2 separate regions of the Homo sapiens genome follow, and region 2 is linked to region 1. The links come from fine-mapping of genetic effects on gene expression. Tissue or cell type: unexposed skin. Region 1 holds a variant in brackets; the other region holds the start of a gene. All regions are shown on one strand. Distances are from middle to middle.

The links. PIP is the estimated chance that this variant, and not a neighbour inherited with it, causes the effect.
Region 2: it holds the start of RNF8, and the variant in region 1 is fine-mapped to the expression of RNF8 in unexposed skin (GTEx, PIP 0.99).

Annotation. Positions count from the first base shown.
Region 1 is chr6:37,545,258-37,547,938 of GRCh38, reverse strand. It overlaps LOC124901312 (a long non-coding RNA gene), which reads left to right. Exons shown (of 3, transcript XR_007059567.1): 2 at 1-156; 3 at 233-1,001. Among named protein-coding and RNA genes, the nearest start is that of MIR4462, 8.8 kb to the left of the region's middle. RefSeq lists an enhancer at 1,711-2,320. The variant A/G (reference allele first, on the strand shown) is at 1,254.
Region 2 is chr6:37,352,949-37,355,629 of GRCh38, reverse strand. RNF8 (ring finger protein 8) reads right to left here and starts at 1,647. Exons shown (of 8, transcript NM_003958.4): 1 at 1,355-1,647. The coding sequence starts at 1,465. RefSeq lists an enhancer at 1,345-1,394 and a silencer at 1,695-1,794.

The DNA.
Region 1 (2,681 bases):
TTCCTGCTTCCGTCAACTCCATCCCTCCAAGCCTTGGCCTCCCCTCAGCACCTCATCCAACTGGCAAACTTCCAAGGAGAGGCAGGACAGTGAGCAGGCACTCTGCCCAGACTGCCTGTGTTCAACCTCCAGAGCTTACCAGCTCTGCAACCTTGGGTAAGTCGCTTAGCCTCTCTGTGCCTCTGTTTCCTCATCTATACGATGAAGATAATAATAGAAGCCTCTTTTTCAGGAAGATGAGGTTATGGGTGCTACGGAGCTCTGGTCCGCCAGTTCCTGCTGCAAGTCACCGCTGTTCACTCACCAAGAAACAAGTTGGTCAGGAAGCTGCACTGCAGCTGTGGTGTTTTTTTGTTTTGTTTTGTTTTTTTGAGACGCAGCCTTGCTCTGTTGCCCAGGCCAGAGTGCAGTGGCACAATCTCAGCCCACTGCAACCTCCACCTCCCAGTTTCAAGCCATTCACCTGCCTCAGCCTCCTGAGTAGCTGGAATTACAGGCACCTGCCAACATGCCCAGCTAATTTTTGTATTTTTAGTAGAGATAGGGTTTCACCATGTTGGCCAGGCTGGTCCTGAATCCCTGACCTCAAGTGATCCACCCACCTTGGCCTCCCAAAGTGCTGGGATTACAGCCACGAGCCCCCGCGCCCGGCCCAGCTGTGGCTTTTAAGGACACCAGAGAAACACTCATGGAGCCAGAGGTGGCAAATCACCGAATTAGAATTACCCTAACCAGCTGCAAAGAAAAATCCCTGGAGGTGTGTGCTGACTTGATCAGAGGCCCCAAGGAAAGAACTCTCAAAAGTGACAGGACCAATTCTGATGCCTCCCAGGACTTTGAGAATCACCCTGAGAAAAACTTGTGGTGGGCTGGGCGCTGTGACTCACGCCTGTAATCCTAGCACTTTGGAGGCCGAGGCGGGTGGACCACTTGAGCCCAGGAGCTCAAGACCAGCCTGGCCAACATGGTGAAACCCCGTCTCTACAAAAAAAATACAAAAATTAACCAGGCGTGGTGGCGCGCACCTGTAGTCCCAGCTACTCAGGAGGCTGAGGTGGGAGAATCGCTTGAACCCAGGAGGTGGAGGTTGCAGTGAGCCGAGATTGTGCCACTGCACTCCGGCCTGGGCAACAGAGCAAGACCTTGTCTCAAAACAAAAAGACAAAACAAAAACAACAACAACAACAACAAAAACTTGTGGTGCAGGTTCTAAGACGCAGGGTGTCTTCCAGATAAGAATCCACAAGTGACTC[A/G]TTGACTTGCACCGTCCTCTGAGGTTATCAGCTCATTACTTCCATTAGTAATGTGCCCAGGAGTGAAGGCTGAAGTCACCATTGCAGATGCTTAGGTCAACTATTTTAATTCATTGATTACTAGTTGTTAAAAAAATCATAGCAGCCACCTCCTAGTGCTGTTGTTAGGATTAAACAATCCCATGGACAAGGTTTCAAACAGCCCCAGGCACAGGCTATGGGCTCAATGATCATCAGCTGCTGGAGTCCCTGCAACACGGTGGGTGCGGGGGAGGGGTCAGGGTGTCAGGGAAAGGGATTGACTCAAGGCCTCCAGGCCTCACCCCGGGGAGGAGGAGGGACCTGGTGTGTAACTAACCTGTCATGAGGGGAGAAGGGCCATGGGTGGTGAGGGGGAAGGGAAGAGGGTACCCAGAAGAACAGCCAAAGTCAGGACTGACCTCTGGTGGGAAGGAAATGAAAGTTTGCGCTGAGGCTGTCCTGTCTCCCGCTATTCCTCCTTCCATTCTTCCTTCCTTTTCTACCCCAGTCCTGAGGGAGAGACAGACATGGAGAGATCCGTTGTCAGGCTTCACCCTGCTCCCTGGGCAGGCCTCAGGCCACCAACCATTCTTTTAGGGCCTCCAGCCCTCTAGATAGGCTGGCGTAGGACTCCACTGGGACAGGGTGGTCACTGCTGTAGAAGGCAGGGCTGTGTCCCCCTCAGACTGGGGCTCCCTGAGTCAGGGCTGTGGCTCCCCTCAGACTGCGGCTCCCTGAGGACGGGGCTGAGTCTCCTCCCTGGGAGTCACCTCATTTATCTCCTGGAACAAGACTGACCTCATGGGTGTTCTAGGGAGGGAAAGGATGTTCCATTTACTCAAAAATTCCTTTCTTCTTGCCAATAGGTGGGCCACAGGATAGAGCATTAAAGGGCCTGGTAGAAACTGGAAAGACCTGGTAAGGGCCATGGAGTCCATGCTTGGTGGTGGGGGCTGATGGAGGTTATGTTGCGGACATACTCTCTTCCCTGGTCCTGCCCCTGGCCCCAGCCAGAAGCTTTCTTAAGCTTGCGCCAGTTTCAGGGGGCAGGAAGGAGTGTGGATGGCTCCCCAATGCCCAGCCTTCTTAGGAGCCCCAGAGGGAAGCCCCCGTGGTGTAGGGGTCTGAAAGACCATCTCCACGCAGAAAACACAGGGGTTTATTGAGCTTCAGGGGCTGCCCACTTCGTGTCTGTTGCATAAATAATTGCAAACTCGCAGGCCAGTTCCTCCCCTAGCCTAGACCACTCACCTCTGCCAGCCTCTATCTTCCCAAACCCCGCAGGGCCAGCCCGTGTTCCCCAGTCAGCCCAGCCGCACATTGTGTCAACCTCTCTGTCCCCTCATTGCATTCAAGCCCGGCCTCCACTCAAGCCCTCAACCTTGTCACTCATTCAGGAATGCCCAG
Region 2 (2,681 bases), 190 kb after region 1:
TTGTGCCTAGACATGAATTCCTCCTCTGACTTGAAGAACTACTGCTCTGGGAAGGAACTAAATAATCCAAATCTTAGCACTTGATCATACAGCCCATATGGATGTTCTTTATACGATGACTGCTTCATTGTATAAATCCTCTCTCCCCACTCAAGCCTTAAACTCTTCGAGCGCAGAAATTTTATTTGTCCTCATTGTACACCAAACAATGTTAAATACTCAGTAAATACCTGGCAGACTGAATTGAGGCAGTACGGCTTATAGGAAAAATCTACCTGAACACACATGAGACTCAAAATACTTCTTGAATTTACATCATGACCAACCATCCACTTTTACTGCAAAGAGAACTTTTCATACAGATTATTTCCAAAACCCAAATGGTTCCCAGTCATCACAAGCTTGTCCCTGACCCAGTTCTCCTTCTCAACCTGATTGCAATCTAACTCCCTCCTCCCTTCCCTCGTCTTTTCAAGATGCACCACGCTGGTGCATCTTGAACCGTGCCAGGAACGGTACCTCATCTTTCCCCTTAAAATATTTTTCATTTGCAACTGCATTAATAAAGACGACAGGCAGCCTCTGGAGAGAACTCTGAATACCTGCCCGACCCACCTCAGGGAGTGCCACTCGGCCGTACCGAGCCTCACAGGAGAAATGTGGCCCAGCCCAAGCCGCCCATGTTCCTCAGAGTTGGGAAGGAGGAAGACATTTCTACGTGAAAGTTTGATTGCTTTAAGGGACAAAACCCAAAATTTGCAATCGTTTTCAAAACAAACTCGAGAAAGTTCAGGCGCCGGGCCCTGCCTCGGCTTCCCGGCAGCTCGCGGCCCCCGCCACCGTTCCCCGACCTGGCACCGCGGGGCTCTGTGCGCCCTAAACGGGATCTGGCCAGCCCCCGCCCTCCCCTCCTCGACACCCCCGCATCTCCTCACGTTCCCTGCGCGTCCCTCTCCTCCCAGTCCCCGGCCCAGCTACCCGCTGACCCAGGCCTCTCTGGACGGGGCCCGCTTCTCGCCCCACAGGCCGCGGGTCAGGGCCTCCGTCCTCGCCCCAACCCTTGTGGCCCCCCCGGGCTCCCCAGAGCCGAACTCTCTTTTCTTCCTTTCTCCCACTCGGCCCCTATTTCTCCCCCAAACACCTCCCACCGCAGACCCTTCAGCCGCTCGCGCCAGAACCGCTTTCTCCCTTCTCTCCCCAGGAATCCACCCCCCCCACAGACACTTCGCTCCTCTTCCTGATGCCCGCCTCCTCTCTGCCATTCATTCAGCCCAGCAAGACACCTTCCTCCCTCCCCGGAGCCCCGCTCCCTCCAGCCCCTGCCCTCCGCTCCACAGGACCCCTTCCCCCGTACCTCGCACCCATCTTCCAGCAGCAGCCACCCGGCGCTCATCCCCACCCGCCGCAGGCACCAGCTCCGGCCACCGGCGCGGTCTCCTGTGACGAAGAAGCCGGGCTCCCCCATCGCCTACTCGACCCCGGGGGCGGTCAGCACCGAGCGAGACCCTGACCTAGGTTCTGGCTGCCTCTGTGCATCCCCTCAGCTTCCATATCTAAATAACAGACAGAAGCAATCGCCACACGCTCGCGATCGCTGCGAAAGCAGGCTCCGCTCGCCCGCCCTCGGCCAGGAAGCAGGAGCACTACGCCTGCGCAAGAGGACGGCGGCCGCCCTGGAGCAAAGAGGGTGGGTTGGGAGCCAATCCGGCCCTGGGCGGGGCGGGCGCGATTCGAGAGGTCTCCTCGCCTCACACCTTCCCTCGCCGCCTCCAGAACCATCACCCCAGTCCTAGCCGCCCCAGACTGGAACCTCTTCTCACCTTTCCTCTTTTTAAAAAAGTCATGTGAAACTATAGCCCACTTTTAAACAACTTTAAACTTTCCATCGGATTTAAGTCTGCCTAGTCTGTTGCTAAATAGTCTCTATTTTGCACGACCTACTTATATTACCGAAGTAAAAAATAAATTACACTAGGCAAATCTACAAAGACAAAGAGCACAGTTACCTGGGGCGAGGTGTGGGAGCGGGTATTGAATGCAGATGGGCTTGAAAAAATTGGAGGAAAGCGGTAATAGAAATGTTCTAAAAGTGGATTGTGGTGACAATTGTACAACTGTATAAGTTTATTAAAAAGTCATGGAAGTGTGGCCGGACGCAGTGGCTCACGCCTGTAATCCCAGCACTTTGGGAGGTCGAGACGCGCGGATCACTTGAGTTCAGGAGTTGTGACCAACCTGGCCACATGGGGAGACACCGTATCTACAAAAAAAAAAAAAAAAAAAGGAGGAAGGGAGGGAGAGAAAGGAAAAAAGAAAAAAAAGAAAAATTAGCTAGGTGTGGTGGTGCACACCTGTAGTCCGGCTACTTGGGAGGCTGAGGTGGGAGGATCACCTGACCCCGGGAGGCAGAGGTTGCAGTGAGCCGACATGGCGCCACTGCATCCCAGCCTGGGCGACAGAGTGAGACCCTGTAAAGTGAAGAAAGTGTAAACTTCCAGTGGGTGAATTTTATGGCATGTAAATTATACTCAATAAAGCTGTTAATTTTATTATTATTATTACTGATTACAGACAGGGTCTCGCCCTGTCACCCAGGCTGGAGTGCAGCCTGGAGTGGTGCGATCTCAGCTCACTGCAACCTCCGCCTCCCGGGTTCAAGAGATTCTCCTGCCTCAGCCTCC